5 linked regions of the Homo sapiens genome follow. The protein of the gene in region 5 purifies or fractionates together with the protein of the main gene of each other region. This does not show direct contact. Each region holds a gene or a part of one and is shown on either strand. Other genes may lie near its edges.

Region 1 (2,950 bases), on a different chromosome or scaffold from region 5:
TACAGAACACTGCTCATGGATTAGCCCCTTGTTTGCTGCTCCTTTCGGTACAGACGCCTGGGAAGGCTTTTCCCACACAAGATCACTCATCTTTTGACAGGTTTAAGCATTCTGTCAACTGTCCATCATGGGTTCTCAAGGAACTTAAAACAAGTATCTTCGTGCCAATAAACCTGAATAATACACAGAGTCCCTTCCTATCCATGGGAAGGAAGCGGAGTTGGCTCATCCAAGTAACCCTATTAGAGGTAAGTTGTTAAAAAAAATTGTCATCATTCCTAATTCTCCCAAATTATTTTGGTCTCTTTGTACTACTTATCTTCATCACATCACATTACATTTAGATGTTGTGAACAATTTGGCAAGAAGCTAAAATTACTGACTAATGTTTCTATCAATTTGTATGATCAATGGCTAGATAATCAGAGTTGGCTCTACAGCTGACATTCAAAAGCACGACTACCAATTTCTGCCCACACAGGCTATCCTTGACATTATTACTGTCTCTCTTATGTAAAACCTGTATAGAAAGAAATTTGTTATATCAAATCCAACTTTAATTCTAGATGAATATTCAGCTCTGGGCCAGGGAGAAGGCATCACTGTACAAACCCCAGAGTCTGCTAACATCCCCAGGCACAGAGCCTATCATTCGTTAAACAAACCATCTCTGGGGAAAATGACAACAGCCTGAATAAGAATATGGTGACCATCTTAAGGACAGCTCCAATTAATGGCAACAGTAGGGACGGTGCTGGCTGCAGAGGGTGGAAGTGCAGGAAGTAGCAATATTTCCTCTCAACAAATATAAATCTCTTGCTTAAAGCAGCATGCACAGAATGACTGAAAACGCTGGCAATATTTTCCCTATATTAAGCTATAAGCCAAGGCAAATTTAAGGAGTCATGAATTATCTTTGGGATTGCACAACAGTACATGTTCAAAACTAACATTTCAAAAGGGTATTTTCCTCATCTGAAATTCCCTCATCTTAATTCTATAGTAGAACAACCCATTGTACATAAATATTTAATCTTTTATACATTTTCGGTTTTAAGATATGATTAAAGAAACAACTTGTTATTGTCGGAAGAGCCAGGGAAGAACAGTAATCCATTAATAGTGGAAACCACATATACCCTGTTTCTTCTCTCTTAGTGAGATACTGTTATTTAGGGAGGGGTAATTGAGAATTAATGTGCAAGTTAAGTGGGAAGATGTCACTCAACTCCTCAAAGTTCATACCAGAATAATGTGAATGCCAGAAGGCTGATTTTCACAATTTAGTGCTATAACTGACAGCATTTGAAATACATGAAGAAAATAATCGAGCCCGTGATGTTACTCAGCCTTCCTACCAGAAAAGAGAGTAAAGCATCCCCACAGGAGTGTCTGTTCTCCTCTTCCAGCCACAGTCACAAGTGTGCTAGCACCTTACCTGGTGAAACATGGGAAGAGGAAAAACACATGAATGCCTGTTGGAGTTATTTATAAGAAACCCAAGCAGAATTTATAAAATATAAATAGAAGAACTCATCACCTAAACTCATGGCCACACTACATTACACTAGCAATAATTATCTTTATAACTGTTGTCAACTGTCTTTTCAAGATGAGACAACTTAGCATCAATCCATCTGGTCATCTTCTCTGTTTGAGTAGTTCATGTCTAATAAGAAGGAGAAATTCTCATAACTGTACAACAAGGTATATGCTGAAAACTGATTACCCTAATAATATTGGCTTCAATATTCTAGACTATAAACGTTTTTCTTCCATCATAATATTTTCCTAATACTTTGTATTTCCATGGCTCTTGAGTTGTTTTTTAGTGCTTTCCACATCCATCTTCCCTCACGTGACCCTCATGACGGCTCTGTGAGGTAGCCAGGGCAGGCATCAGTACCCCACTTTGCAGATGACCCTGAGACTTGGGAAAGTGACTCAGCTAGGGGTCACATGGCTATTAAGAATCGAAAGAGGGACTAGAAACTATCCTAATCCAACACTCTTTCCTCCATACTAATGGATGGGAATTGCTTCTATCAATTTGTGCATTAGCAATCCACATCCTTCTCAAGTTCAGGCAACTGAGTCAATTAAAAAGGTGACTGGAAAGGAATGGCTCTACTTTTACTGCCTCAGTATAAAAGTCTCTTAAGTTGTGGCGTCAGAAAAATTAACTTCTTCCCACTCCAGTCTCTAAACCTGAGCATGGCCCTATAATGCCTTTAAGAAACTGGGGATAGAAATGGACACTGAAGTGTAAAATGGAAGGGAGACGGAAGGAGGAGCCATCATCCCTCAGAGAGCCACATAGAAGGCACTTCAGACAATGTCCTCGGCAGGGTGGTGGAATGCACGTGTGCCCAGGGTGGAGAACTGGTGCCAGTTCCGCAGGAAGCCCCTATTGTACTGGCCTGTGTCCACGATGAGCCCGCAGAGGAGCCGGCGCCCAGTCTTCTGTCGGAGGGCCTGCTGGACTTCCCGCTCAGTCACATTGTAGCTGATGTTGATCAGCTGGATCAGGAAGATGTAGGCCATGCCTGCTGTGATGATCACAGAGTACCACACGCAGGTGAAGGACAGAGCCGAGCTAGGAGAGGGAAAAAGGCTGTCAGGGCTGCCGTTTTTGTCAAATTCAGAAAACTGTCATCATTCTCACGTTTTACACATTTTTTTACTTATTACTAAAGACTTTGGCATCTTCCCCAACCCTCCGAACTGGAAGATACTCAGAATGCCAATAACCTGCTTAAGTAGGAGAATGTGTGTGTTTATTCTATAATTACTGGTGCCTATTTTCTAGTATATTACACTAGAATAGCAGGGACTGTTTTTTGCATTTTGTACCCTCCACACACCCAGCACGCTGCCTGACATAACAGCGTTCAACACCTGTTTGTTAAATAAACAAGTAATTCGTAAATTACATCTAACTCATGAGAAA
Region 2 (3,520 bases), on a different chromosome or scaffold from region 5:
CTGCACAGGTAGGAACTTACTCATTTTTACATTCTCTCAGTGCCTATCATGCTCTTTCTGAATGGATTTTTGTTAAGTGATTGAATACAAGATAGAGAAACCTGGTTCAAGAGGGAAGCCTGGAACAGATTATGAATGAAGAAATGGAATTCGAGTGTAAATTCTGTATTCCATCATGATCCGAGTAAACCAGGTTCTCTCTTTAGGTCAGGTCACAGAACAATACACCTTAAGACCCTGAGAAGTCAGATGGGAATATTTGCTTGGGTTTAAGAGTGAGGATGGTAGAATGTAGCCTGGTGGCCTGGAATGCAGAGAGAGAATCCTGGGTACCGTGGTTGTGTAGACACCATGTAAGTGAGATCCAGAGTAACAGCTGGCGAGACTTCCGTGGCCGTGTTGCTGGGGGGCCCGAGGCACTGTGCGATGCACGGGAAGCATAGGACGTGGCCTTTGCCTGCGATGTGAAGGGAGATGCATAATGTGGAATGGTTAGAACCAAGCGCCTGAATGTGCCCATCCGAGCGCATGTCCTGGGAGTCTGGTGAGGAAGCGATTGTGGAAATGGGACTCAGCATAGGTGGGCTTTGGAGAGCTGGGGAGTGTAGAGAAGGGGGTGCTCTGAGCTGTCCCAGAGCAGGGCAAAGACCCAGGACGGGCAGGGTTTGTTCTGGAGGATGCTGAGGAGACAGGGCTGTTGGATGAACGCTCAGGAGCAGCAGAGGAGGGGCCTCCATCTCCCTTCCGAGTGCGGGCCTCTCATGAAACACTAGGATGCTTTCGCCAGTGCCTTGGAGGAACTTGCCAGGTAGGGCCCCAGGGCCAGAGATTCTTGTGGTTCTTCCTGTATAAGAGTTGAAGAAGTGCAACTGCTAAGTGTGCTGTGAAGTGTGTGAGGAGCCATCCTTTGTGTTCACTGTATTCTCTGTCTCTGAGGAATCCGTTTTCTGAGTAACTTATGTGCCCATGGTCTGTGGTGCCAGTTGTGCACTCACAAGCATAACACAGGCTGTGTGCTCCAAGGGAGCCTTTGCTTTGGGAAGGGTGTGGGCTTCCAGAGACCTTGGGGCTGGCTCTTTGACGGATGGAGAATGTCAGGAAGCACCTGGGTCCTTCTGTGAGTTTTCTGGCGACCTCGATTGCCACACGGCGAATTTTGATAGCGTATGCACTGGAGCTTTGTAGCCTAGGGCAGTGGCATCCAAAGAGCTTCCAGGAGACTTTCTGAGTTGGCACCTTAGATCTGAACTCTCTTGACTAAAACACTTGCATTTCCTTCTAACCACTTGGCAGAAGTAAGTGATTGTAATCCCTGGTGTGGATGGGATGGGGCTGGCTGTATCCTCACAGATCTCACTCACAGATTGCAGGCCCTTCTCTCTTCTTCTTGTCTCAGTGAAGCACTATCCAAGGCCCTGAAAACTGAGCCAGTCTGGTCATTGGTGGCCGGCAGAGTGGTGGATAGGGCCAGGTGTATTAGGAAAAAGAAAAAGAAATCTCTTTATTTAATCCATTGTGAGACACTAAGAAACCATCTGTGTTTCAGCTTCTGTCCTCCCCCTTCCCCCCCAGTTGCTCTCTTTACTTTCTTCTTGTTATCATGTGTAGGGGTGAAAGTGGCCAGATATGAGAGTAAGAGTTCCCATTTATCCAAGGACAGAAGCAGGCAGGAACCTCAGGATCTGATGTGGGCAAGCCGCAGGTAAAGGGCAGGTTCAAGGCGCAGAATACAGGTAGATGATTCTCTCTGATATCTGCCTGCATCTTCATGTGGCTGTCTTCTCTGTCTCTGCGCTGGGGGTGCACCTCTTCTCACAAGGACTTCAGTCATGTTGGATTAGGGCCAAGCCTGTTGATCCCATCTTCTCTTGATTGCATCTGCAAACACCCTAATAAGGTCACATTCATAAGCATCAGGGGTTAGGAGTTCAATATATCCTTTGGGGGAGACATGATTCAACACACACGTGTGCGCACACACACAAACACACACATACACATGCATCAATACACACAACACATATATATGTACCAGTATCAGGCATAGTGTTTGTTTGTGTTTGGATGTGTTAGCATATGTTTGGCCAGCAACATAGCACTTACTAACAAGGACTTAAACAGCTTTCTGTTTCCTTAATAGCAAGGCACTGAAGGTAGGTGCTTGCTTCCAGGTGCTGGTGCAGCGGCTTGGGATGTTACTGAGAGCCAGGTTCTCTCTTCTTTCACTTTGCCATCCTCAGCATGTTTTCCTTTGCCCCATCATGCAAAAGGGCTGGCCACAGCTGCGCCACATCTGTGTTGAAGGCAGTGAGAGAGGAGGGGGAGTTGGTGTCAGCTGCATCTGTCCGTTTTTGTCAAGAAGCGACAAGCTTTTCCAAAAGTTTGGTGGCTGACTCTGTTCAGGGCCCAGTGCCAGAGCTGGGCTGCGTGGCCGGCTCCTGGAGAAAGAGAAGGAGAGAAAATGAGGGTCTGCCTGGGAGGTGGTCCTGGAGGACTGGACTGGTAACACATGCGAGAGAACTGCCCCGTGCAGGGGTTGGCCGTGCTAGGCCTTGATAAAACTGCCTTTCCCTCTCTTACCTGCTCTTCCTGGCAAAGCAGGAGCCCATATGGATTAGGCCCAGAGCCATATGCATGCGGCTTCAAGGTTGCAGGTGTGGGGCTATGCACACCTGTGTGTTCCATCAATAGGTTCGGTGTGGGTACAGTGTGGGCTGGGAATCCCAGTCCTGTCCTGGTTGTCTTTGTACCCCTCTAGCACTCGGCACACAGGCTTCTCATAGGAGGCGCTCAATAAATATTTGTTGAAATGAATCTGCGTCTTTTCCCTTCAAAGACATTTGAGTCCAGAAACAGCCACATTCATTCACTATAATATTCATGAATATCTTACTCTTTATTTCTATTGTTGTTGTTGTTTATTTACTTTTGTTCTTTAATCCATCATTTGGCAAAAACTACTTGGTACCAGGGATTCAAAGACACATTGAGGACTATATAGTGAAGGTGAGGACTTGCAGAGAGGAAGGGATGGGGCAGAGCGGGGGTGCCCTTTCTGAAACAAGGGAGAGTTTACCGTTCTGGAGTCCACATGGCAGGGATTCATCTCTTAAACTTGCGGTACTTTGTTGAGTCCAGTTTCACTGTAGTAAAAACAACCAGAACACATAGTAAGCCCTGTTGGTCCCGTGAGATTGCCTGCTCTTCACGTCTCCTGTTTGTGAAATAGCACAGGATTTTAGGTGCAGGGTTTTTCATATGCCGAATAAATATTTGTGTAGCCTTCACTCTAGGCCAGGTACTGTGCTGTCAACTGTGAAAGCCTGAGTAAGACTCAGAAGGATGTGTTTGCAGCTCCTCCTGAAAGGAATGCACAATTTCTGCCTGCTGATTGGCCGAGGGAAGCATTTCTTATCTGTTAATACTTTAATCACTCCTGGGACTCTCTCCCTTTGGCCTGCAGCTCTGCTTCCTTGACAGTGACCTTGTTTTTTTTCTGTCCCTGGCCATGTGCAGTGGA
Region 3 (3,520 bases), on a different chromosome or scaffold from region 5:
CAGATGGGGTAGGAGGATGGAAAAATAAATGCACATTAAAACTGTGCACTTGGCTTGGAACCCCTCCCACTTTTTACATTGGTCCACAGTGAGGAGTTGTGCCAATTTTATACCAATTTTGGTTTTAAACCACACACCTCACCCTCTCTTGTCCCCTCCTATTCTGGTCTCATGATTCTGCAGTGAAGATCCCCTTGACTTCTGGGGAATAATGGGATCCACAACCTTTCTTGCCGCCTTCACCTGAGTCCCTATTTTATTTTTAGAGACTGAGTCTCACACTGTTGCCCAGGCTAGGGTGCAGTGGCACAGTCATGGCTTACTGCAGCCTCGACCTCCTGGGCTCAAGTGATCCTCCTGTCTCAGCCTCCCAAAGCACTGGGACCACAGACAGTCCCTGTTACTGATTTCTCAGTCCCCTGCAGCTTCCTCCCTCTGCTTCTCTTTCTCCTACTCTGACCCAGGCGCGTGATTCTACTGAACTTTTCCATACTGTACCGTCATCCATCCCACCTGGCAGTCACATTCTTCCAGGATTCCCTCTGTCCCGTCTTTCTGGGAACTGGTCTTGCCCTTACAAACCTTTCTCCTTCACAGCATGTTACACTGCTTTAAAAAACTCTTTTAGAAAATCACAAAGTAATAATATCCTGTTCTCTTTTTCTTTTCTTTTCTTTTTTTTTTTTTTTTTTTTTTTAAGACAGGGTCTCTCTCTGTCACCCAGGTGGGAGTACAGTGGTACAATCATAGCTCACTACAGCCTCAACCTCCTGGCTCAAAAGATCCTCCTGCCTCAGCCTCCTGAGCAGCTGGAACTTATAGGTACACACCACCACGTCCAGATAATTTTTTTATTTTTTGTAGAGATGAGGTCTCGCTGGTCTTGAACTCCTGGGCTCAAGCGATCCTCCCGCGATCCTCCCGCCTTGGCCTCCCAAAGTGCTGGGAGTACAGGCGTGAGCCACTGTACCCAGTCCCTGTTTTCTTTCTTGCACTTCTGCCTGCCATTTTTCGCAAAGCTGTGGCTTTCGAAACTCCGGTGTTTTTTCCTCTCTTGTGCTCCTTTTTCCCTGGCAAACCCCTTCACACTGTGTGCCCGGGATCTTCCACTGACTCCTTCTGGCCCTGTCTAGTTTCCTCACTGCAAAACACACACGTGTGTATCTAAGAGGACATGTCTCCAAGGTCCAGCCAGCCATCAGATCTCAAGGCGCCTGTGACTCTGTTTTTCTCTGCTCATTGCCTTCTACCTCTCATCTGTTGAGAAGCCTTCATAGTTGCCTTCCCTCGGCACTCCAGATTCCAGCACTCTAGGGGCTAATGAAAGACTGTCCCATTTGTCACAATGGTTTCTAATCATTAAAAAGTGAGACGCCAGGGGCGGTAGCACACATCTGTAATCGCAGCACTTTGGGAAGCCAAGGCAGGAGGGTTGCCTGAGGCCAGAAGTTCTAGACCAGCCTGGCCAATATAATGAGACCCTATCTCTACATAAAATAAAAAAAATTAGCCAGGTGCAGTGGCACATGCTCGTAACCCCAGCTACTCGGAGGCTAAGGCAGGAAGATCAGTTTGGTCCAGGAGTTTGAGGCTGCAGTGAGCCATGACTGTGCCCCTGCACTCCAGCCTGGATGACAGAGCGAGACCCCGTCTCTAAGGAAAAAAGAGAGACAGTGTGCCCGCGGAGTTTAAATGAGGACATGTTGTTACTACTTTGGACAGTTACCGCGTTTTGTCATGGGCTTGTTCATTTGGGTGTGAACATATGAAGGAGGAAGGGGGTGTGGGAGCGTCTTGACCCATCGGTCACCATTGTCCACTCCATGGCCAGAATCAAGGGCCAAGAGTGCCTGAGGAGGTGATGCAGCTAGTTCTTTACATAGGTTGTATTGTTTTCTTTATTTTGAATATTGTCTTGTAATCAGAAATCATCTGGAGTGATGTTTCATTTAGTTATTCTTCAGCTGAAACCTGAGCCTTTCAGTTCTTCCTCACTTCTGAAGTAATTCAGGTTCAGAGCATATAAACATGTGTTTGCACATCCAGATACAACCCCAAGGCTTACTGAGGTTCACCTGATTCGAATATCTGGCGTGTTTCACAAGGAAAGAACCTCCTGCTGTATTTTTAAACGTGTGTGGAAAGTTTTCCATGGTAAACGGAAATCAGAGAATCAAAGAATGGTCAAAAAAACATGAATCAAAACAAAATGATGTCAATTGTGTCATGGCTATGGTTAGTCTAACCCTGAACCCAAGGAGTCATTTCAAGTAGCAGCAAGTGCCTATTTTATTAAATCCCCTGGACAGATGGACTTGGAATCCAGGCCTAAATGCTGTGTGCATCTCATTTGGGCTCTGCTTCTGAAGCGTTACCCTCCCATATAATGGATGGTCATTTGCAGAGATTTTGCACAGTCGCGATAGCACGTGGGCAGGTCTTCTCCACCGCAGCACTCAGTATTTGGGGCTGCGTGTTTCTCTGTGGTGGGGCCATCCTGGGCACTGTTGGATGTTGAGCAGCGTCCCTGGGCTCCACCCACCAGATGCCAGGAGCACCTCTCCTCCCTTAGTTGTAACAGCCAAAAAAGTCTCCAGACGTTGCCTAATGCCCCCCAAGGAGTCACAGTCACCCCCCGCCCCCGCCACGTTGAGAATTGTGCCATCAGGGATAGCACTTTCTGTCAAGAATAAATGGCCTTTTTGTCCTCAATGCCCCAATTGGGTTTGACACTCAGAACAACCATCACACTTAGTTCTTACCAACAGTTTGTCGTGTCCCCTTCCCTGCCCACCGTGGGATCCCTTCACCCCAGGCTCCAGGTCCATGCCGCTTCCCCCGTGGCCCCCTGGTTGCTGGGAGCCAGCTGTTTACGCCCCACTTCCCTGCGCTTCTCCTGCCCAGAGAGCAGAGGCCATTCCCAGAGCCCTCACCCCCGTGAGCTGACAGCTGTACCTTGGCTTGCTTCCCCAGGATGGCACAGTGTTCGACGGCCGCCCCATAGAGTCCCTGTCACTGATAGACGCCGTGATGCCCGACGTGGTGCAGACGCGGCAGCAGGCATTCCGAGAGAAGCTCGCTCAGCAGCAAGCCAGTGCGGCGGCGGCGGCGGCTGCGGCCACGGCAGCAGCGACAGCAGCCACCACGACCTCAGCCGGCGTTTCCCACCAAAATCCATCGAAGAACAGAGAGGCCACGGTGAATGGGGAAGAGAACAGAGCACATTCAGTCAGTGAGTGCAGGGGCTCTGGGAGTTCGGTGGGCCTCTCTGGGTTCATTGTTTTCTTCTTGGGCAAATCCGAATGCCTTCTTAAAAACCTGCCTGCTATAAATGTCTTAGAAGCTGCTCTCTAGTGTTTGCTTACGATCTGGCCGGAAGAACTTCCCGTTCCATTTTTTCCATCACAACCCTTGGACCTGAGCTTCTTCACCCTCATCTTCAACTTTAGGAAATCGTGCTGCGCCTGCTAATCTGAGAACTCTCATGTAACACATGATTATTGCCCGTGATAAACAAAAG
Region 4 (3,520 bases), on a different chromosome or scaffold from region 5:
TCGAAGACCATTTATAGCCCTGCTGCAAAGCTGACACTAACTTTTTTAACAATGAAGTACCATCCCAGGACAGGGGGTGGTGCTGTACTGGGCCGATCCTCAATCTCAAGTTCAAAGAAAACGAGCCCTGTGAAGAAAGGGTCCAACTGGTGTGGAGGATGGGAGAGACCTATAACCTACACAGCACTCTGCCTTAAATGATACTCTAATTATGTACTCTTGCTTACCTTGCAATATGTCCAGAGTAAGCCTTCCTTCCCTGGAAGCATAAGTATATCTGCTATTACAATAGGAGGTCTGTCAAGACTTGAAATTCAAAGGGAGTAATTGTTCATTAGGTTCACAGTGCATAGAACACCATGCCAGATACAACGGCTGTTAGGACTAGTTCTGAGTTGAAGCAGGCAGCCTACATACTTGGAGGAAACTAAGGACCACCACCACATCCTTTCTAACATATATACTCTGTCCTCTTCCCTTTACTACCTCTTTTCTCTCTCATCTATTTCTCCTCTTTCTCATAGTTCAGACCTGTGGCATCTGTATCCTGATCTTTTAATAATACAGTTCTCCATTAGGGTATCTCTACAGAATCAATGTTTGTATATACAAAAGGAAAGAGCTAACATTACAGAGCACTCTCTATGTGGCAAATGTGGTGTTAAGTATTTTAACCCATATTATCTCAACTGTTACCACCTAATCCAAGATTAATGTCCATAGTTACACATGTGGAAACCAAAATTTGGAAAGAGTGAGAAGTCTGTAGTTGTTTGTTCTATATTCATCTCTTCTCACAAAACTTAAAATAGTCTAGTTCTTGACTTTTTTCTCATGTGGTCTTTATTTATTATTATTGTTATTATTATTTTTTTTGAGATGGAATCTTGCTCTGTCGCCCAGGCTGGAGTGCAGTGGCGCAATCTCGGCTCACTGCAAGCTCCGCCTCCCGGGTTCAAGCCATTCTCCTGCCTCAGCCTCCCGAGTAGCTGGGACTACAGGTGCCCGCCACCATGCCTGGCTAGTATTTTTAGTAGAGACAGGGTTTCACTGTGTTAGCCAGGATGGTCTCGATCTCCTGACCTTGTGACCTGCCCACCTTGGCCTCCCAAAGTGCTGGGATTACAGGCGTGAGCCACCGCACCAGGCCCCTATTATTATTATTATTTTTTTTTTTTCTGAGACTGAGTTTTGCTCTTGTTGCCCAGGCTGGAGTGCAATGGCGCAATCTCGGCTCACCGCAACCTCCACCTCCCAGGTTCAAGCGATTCTCCTGCCTCAGCCTCCCTAGTAGCTGAGATTACAGGCATGCACCACCATGCCTGGCTAATTTTGTATTTTTAGTAGACAGGGTTTCTCCATGTTGGTCAGGCTGGTCTCAAACTCCTGACCTCAGGTGATCCACCTGCCTTGGCCTCCCAAAGTGCTAGGATTACAGGCGTGAGCCACCACGCCCGGCCTGGGCCCCTATTATTTTTGAGACAGAGTTTCACTCTGTTGCCCAGGCTGGAGTGCAGTGGCGGAATCCCGGCTCACTGCAACCTACGCCTCCAAGGTTCAAGCATTTCTCCTGCCTCAGCCTCCCGAGTAGCTGGGATTACAGGTGCAAGCCACCACACCCAGCTCATTTTTGTATTTTTAGTAGAGACAGGGTTTCACCATGTTGGCTAGGCTGGTCTTGAACTCCTGACCTCAAGTGATCCACCCACCTTGGCCTCCCAAAGTGCTGGGATTACAGGTGTGAGTCAACGTGCCCAGTCCTCATGTGGCCTATTAATTTGTCTAACCAACAGTTTGGGGGAAGGGAGGCATGGAAAGAGCCAGAATAGAGGACAAAAAAAGTCTTCTTTATGAGCCTGAACTTTAAATGGTTCAGGTATTTGTATCAAAGACCACAATGTATCATTTTAGCTACAACCAGCCCTTCAACGATAGTGAGGGAAAAAAAAAAAGAATGTGAAATTCAGTGCTTTGAGAATATTATTTCCACCACCATTTAGGTGAATATTCTATTAACCAACAATGTTTACTTGGGGAAGGTACTCAAACACATCCAACATACCTTAATTTATTCAAAGTATATAAATTAAGCAATCTGTTCATATTAATTATCTCTAAGATTTAAAACATTAACCTATTCAATGATCTCGCCAAAACACTGTTAAATCTATATAATGTGAGGAATTCAGTGGGGATTCTTTAAAAATGGTTATATTTGGGGGCAGGAACAACCAATTTTATTTCATTTAGAATTAAGATATCAACAAGTTATTTTTAAGTAAACAGTTTTTAAAATGTCCAAACACTACAGCAGAAGTTTGCAAGCTCACTGACCTTCAAACAAGGGTTATGGTTATGAGGGTTATCTGACCAAGTGTTCATTGGATAAGAAACACATAAGGTTTCCTAGTGAAGATAAGTGAAGACATTTTAACACCCACAGACACAACCTAACCCAAATTAACACTGTCCATTCCTTTGTCACATTCACCACTGTCCCTGGCTAGCACAGGCTCTAGTTATGATTTTATTAACATTACCTTAAAACTATAAGGTGTCCAACATTATTTCTGAGGCCACCTCTTGCCTGCTCAGAAAACACCAAGGGAAAAAACAACCAATAATTCTCCCCCTTTTTCCAACATACGTTGACCTGTTTTAGTTCCTTATTCAAGATACCCTCAACCACAGTATTGGTTTATGTATACATTTGTCCTTCATAAGCCAACTGTGGAGCATATACCAGGAGCAATCATGAACAGGGAAGAACTACCATCAACTTTAAGTGGGGCCTATGTCTACCAAAATAATTAACTGGTTATTTTACTAGCACACACAAACTAACATTCGACCAGGCTTATCTGAAACCAAATAAGCATGTTCTACCCAAATCAAAAATCAAGTTTATGTGTGACACTCCTTTCAACTCAGAAGATTAAGTATGATGCTGGTTACAAAACAGAATGCTATGAAGTTCCCCATTTTAGTAATGTGGCCTCTATAAATGCTCTTCTACACACGTGTAACATAAAATAGAATCTGTTATAGCTCAGACTACATTTTAAGGAAATCTAGTTTTGTATTTTCTGAAAATAAAATATACCCATTATAGCACATTGGTTTAAGTTCTGAACTCTGCTACATTTTTGCTGTGACATCTTGGACAAATTATCTCTTAGCCTCAGGTGCCTTGTCTACCAAATGGTGGCAATACTTGTGAGGATTAAATGACTTAATAATGTACTGTAGCACAGTCTATAATATAGTATGTGCTTAATAAATTATTTTGCCAACATACTTCCCTTTATTCAGATGTAGTTAGTGAGCCCATTTTGCAGGTGGTTCCTTTTTCAAGCTACATTAAATTTGGGTCATATATCAAGAGATAACCACATAGGATTATCTTAATTTCAAAATCACTCTTATTCTAGCATATTTTAATAACTACTGTTAAAAACAAATCCATGATTCCTATGCCTAGAATTCTACACTGCTAAGGGGAGGAAAGGGCTTTTTCATT
Region 5 (3,520 bases):
CAGTTGAGGAGGAGGAAAGAGACAATAAATAACAAATAATTAAATATCTAGGATATCAGACAGAGAAGAAAGGAGGGAAGGAGGATGAAGGCTACAGGGAGGGTGTGTGATTTTACATAGGGTGGCCAGGGAACATCTTGTGAAGGAGGTGACATCTGAGCAAAGAAGCACCGGCCTGAACAGATGAGGGCTTGACGGTGGGGTTATCTAGGGAAGAGCCCAGTAGGTGTTGGGGAGTGGGCTAGTTTAGGTCAGGTGGTCAGGGGAGACCTCTAGGAGGAGGCGGCACTGGAGATGAGTGTGGTAGAAATACGGGGATCTGGGAAAAGTAAGGCCAAAGCCCAGAGTGGCAAACAGCCTGGGCGTGTGTGAGGAACGGCAGTGGCTGGAAAGACCCTGTGCTCCCAGGCAGCCCAGGTGGCCCTTGATTCCTTTCAGACTGCTGTGTGGGTTCCGGGGTGGCGGGGTACTGGGCCAGGTCCCTAATCTCAGCTTGCTGCACCCCAGCTCTTCCTGCTGAGAAGTGACGTGGCTACTTGCACACCTCGGGGGTTTCCGGTCCGTGGTTAGCTCCTTCCCCTAACAGCATGGTGTTCACACAGGCTTTTAAACACCCAGCTGGCCCTGAAGACATCTAGTGGCCTGTAAATGTCAGAGCCCTGCTGCATCCATCGCTAGAAATCATTTCACTAATACTCTGTGCAGCAGGGAGGGAGGGAGGGCGAGCAGCTGGAGAGGATGTTCTCTGGGCTCTGTCTGCTCTTTGTCTCATTCCTCTGCCCAGCCCCATCCTCAGCCACGCCTGCGAGGGCCACCTCCTCTCACCTACATCCAGCGTCCTACCCCTTCAAACTCTGGGTCCCTGGCCACTCCTTCAGGATCCCACGGTCTGACCTGGGCTGGCCCACCTGGCAGCTGGGGAGGCCCAGCTGTGCCCCGTTCTTCCTCCCCTTCTGGTCAGGGCTAATCATGAGGCAGGATTATTGTCCAGCTCAGCCGGACCCAGAGGTCTGGCTGCCTGGAATCCTCGGCCTCCTGTGAGCTGCGTGGATCACAGTGACAGCAGTAATCCCCTTCTTGGAAAGAGCTTGGCCGTGTGCTGAGTGCTTTCCATCTATTATCCCCACAAATCTTCACAACAGCCCAGTGAGGGCGACCCTGTTAACCAATTGTACTGATGGAGAAACGGAGGCAGGTGATCACAGGGCCAGGATAAAGAAGCAGAGACAGAGTGTGTGCCTTTCACTCCCAAACCCCTTGCTTTCTCTTCTGAGATGGCAGCAGGGACACATCTCCTTCATCCTCTTCTCCACTTGTTTCCTGTGCTCTGGGAAGCCTTCTTGACCCCAGTTGGGCCAGGCCTTCCATTGCACATTCCCAGAGCACCTTCTCCTTCCTTCTCTGAACCTGTGCTGCAACGGTGGTCATTACAAAATCATCCTTTCTGCTGGCCTGTGAGGGCATGGAATTCCAGCATCTTGTTCACCTTGTCGCCATGTAGAAGGCTCAGTGACGTTGGCTAAATGAGTAAATGAATGACTGAAGAATAGGTGAGCTTCTGTGAAGGCCCTCCTTGCTCTGTCAGGGTGACAGGTGAGGAAACAGTCAGGACATCTCCCAGTTGGGCATCATGGGTTTGTTCATTTGTGTGTTAATTCTATATGCTGACCCCTGACAGCAGAGTGAAGGCAGGTGGGGGCCAACAATGAATCTGATAGGAGCTTACTCTCATGGGTTCCAGACAAGTTGGCCCCAGGTGGGAGCCCTGACCAGCCACTGCCAGTGAGATCAGGCTTTAGAAGAGGGTCAGAGGAGTCAGGAGCATCTTCTGCCTGGGGGACTGGAGAAGCTTCCTGGAGAAGTGATGCTTGAGCTAAGTCTTTAAGTTTGGGTGGAATTCAAGCACAGGAGCTGTGCGGAGGCAGCCCTTCAGGCAGACAAAGCTGAGGGAAGAGAGAGTGGCAGAGGGAAGGAGGAGGGATGGGAACGGGCCACTGAGCAGGCCACGTTGGCTAGAATATGAGGAGCACTTCAGATAGTTAGGGATATTAGAGATATTCCAGTTGGAAGGATGGGGTGGAATCAATCTTGTAGGGCGCTGAATGTCCCTAAGACTTTTCTTGGCGAACAGGTGCAAAGTGCAAAAGTGGCATTTTGGAGGCCTTTGAATTCTCAAACTTGAATAGAAGCCAAATTTTTGGGTGTGACCAGGAGACTTCTAACTAATTAAAGTAAAACATATTTCCCAGGGCTGGCACAGTGGCTCACGCCTGTAATCCCAGCACTTTGGGAGGCCGAGGCGGGCGGATCACAAGGTCAGGAGATTGAGACCATCCTGGCCAACATGGTGAAACCCTGTCTCTAGTAAAAATACAAAAATTAGCTGGGCATGGTGGCGTGTGCCTGTAATCCCAGCTACTCAGGAGGCTGAGGCAGAATAATCGCTTGAACCAGGGAGTCGGAGGTTGCAGTGAGCCAAGGTTGCGCCATTGCACTCCAGCCTGGTGACAGAGCAAGACTCCGTCTCAAAAAACAAAAAAAACCAAAAACATATTTCCCCGAAAATGATCAGGACTAAGATCACTGAACCTTTTCCAGAAGGTTGGGAGCTGTCTCTGAGGCAGGTGGTGCTGTTCATGTGAGCATGAACTGATTACCTGGTCCTAGGCTCATGTAGACAGTGTGGGCTTTTCCCTTTGGCACCCCAGCCCAGCAACTCCAGCCCAACAGGTCTGGCCCAGGGCTCCTGCCCTGTGGGGACAGTCTGAGGTAGAGTGACCAGCTCCTCCCAGTTTACCCAGGACCACCTGGAAAGTCTCCTGTCTTAGGAAACCACTCAATCCCAGGAAAATCAGGGCACTCGGTCACCCTCATCTGAGATCCTGTCTTGCCGGCTGGTGGGCTGTGCAGCTGGCTCACCCTGCAGGCTCTAGGCAGTTGGGAAGAGCAATATTGCTCCCAGAAGCTCCTGGTCTGATGGGAGGTGATAGAGACATCCAAATCCAAGTGACAGATGCTCACTTAGACCCTGTTACAGTTCACATGACGGACACAGAGGCTGCGTCTCTCTCCACTGCCATACACCAGCTCCCAGACCCCATCTCCTTTGTCTCCAGGACGTCTCTGCCCACTTCCCCTGGACAGACCTGCCTCGTGTTCCACCTGAACTGGCTCAGGGCTCTGCAGAACAGGCCCTGACTGGGCCTTTCCCTTCAATTGTAGTTATCTCTCCAAGATCCCAAATTTGTTCTCCCCACCCCTGCCCTGTCCCCCCACAAACCCCACAGAATTTGGGTGACTCTCTGGTGCCCTCAGCATATCAGTGATATGAGTCCAGCCTTTGTGATTTTTCCTTCTGCATCCCGCCTTGTACCTTCATTTCTTTTTTTTTCTTTTTTTCTTTTTTTTTTTTTTGAGACGGAGTCTTGCTCCGTTGCCCAGGCTGGAGTGCAGTGGCACAATCTCAGCTCACTGCAACCTCTGCCTCCCAGGTTCATGCCATTCTCCTGCCTCAGCCTCC

The links.
Region 1: the proteins of ZDHHC18 (region 5) and ZDHHC23 purify together in Homo sapiens (affinity purification with western blotting; one study listed by BioGRID). This does not show direct contact.
Region 2: the proteins of ZDHHC18 (region 5) and RNF144A purify together in Homo sapiens (affinity purification with western blotting; one study listed by BioGRID). This does not show direct contact.
Region 3: the proteins of ZDHHC18 (region 5) and TBL1X purify together in Homo sapiens (affinity purification with mass spectrometry, with the first as the bait; one large-scale study listed by BioGRID). This does not show direct contact.
Region 4: the proteins of ZDHHC18 (region 5) and ETF1 purify together in Homo sapiens (affinity purification with mass spectrometry, with the first as the bait; one large-scale study listed by BioGRID). This does not show direct contact.

What each region holds. Positions count from the first base shown.
Region 1 is NC_000003.12:113,958,009-113,960,958, reverse strand, and holds part of ZDHHC23 (palmitoyltransferase ZDHHC23), read right to left. Parts: intron 2,597-2,950; coding exon 2,329-2,596; 3' UTR 1,439-2,328; coding exon of another isoform or gene 1,416-1,438; 3' UTR 240-1,415; coding exon of another isoform or gene 226-239; 3' UTR 1-225. UniProt on the Homo sapiens protein: Palmitoyltransferase that could catalyze the addition of palmitate onto various protein substrates and be involved in a variety of cellular processes.
Region 2 is NC_000002.12:6,923,897-6,927,416, forward strand, and holds part of RNF144A (E3 ubiquitin-protein ligase RNF144A), read left to right. Parts: intron 1-3,520. UniProt on the Homo sapiens protein: E3 ubiquitin-protein ligase which accepts ubiquitin from E2 ubiquitin-conjugating enzymes UBE2L3 and UBE2L6 in the form of a thioester and then directly transfers the ubiquitin to targeted substrates.
Region 3 is NC_000023.11:9,685,044-9,688,563, forward strand, and holds part of TBL1X (F-box-like/WD repeat-containing protein TBL1X), read left to right. Parts: intron 1-2,973; coding exon 2,974-3,232; intron 3,233-3,520. UniProt on the Homo sapiens protein: F-box-like protein involved in the recruitment of the ubiquitin/19S proteasome complex to nuclear receptor-regulated transcription units. Plays an essential role in transcription activation mediated by nuclear receptors.
Region 4 is NC_000005.10:138,536,730-138,540,249, forward strand, and holds part of ETF1 (eukaryotic peptide chain release factor subunit 1), read right to left. Parts: intron 1-3,520. UniProt on the Homo sapiens protein: Component of the eRF1-eRF3-GTP ternary complex, a ternary complex that mediates translation termination in response to the termination codons. The eRF1-eRF3-GTP complex binds to a stop codon in the ribosomal A-site.
Region 5 is NC_000001.11:26,833,173-26,836,692, forward strand, and holds part of ZDHHC18 (palmitoyltransferase ZDHHC18), read left to right. Parts: intron 1-3,520. UniProt on the Homo sapiens protein: Palmitoyltransferase that catalyzes the addition of palmitate onto various protein substrates, such as CGAS, HRAS and LCK. Acts as a negative regulator of the cGAS-STING pathway be mediating palmitoylation and inactivation of CGAS.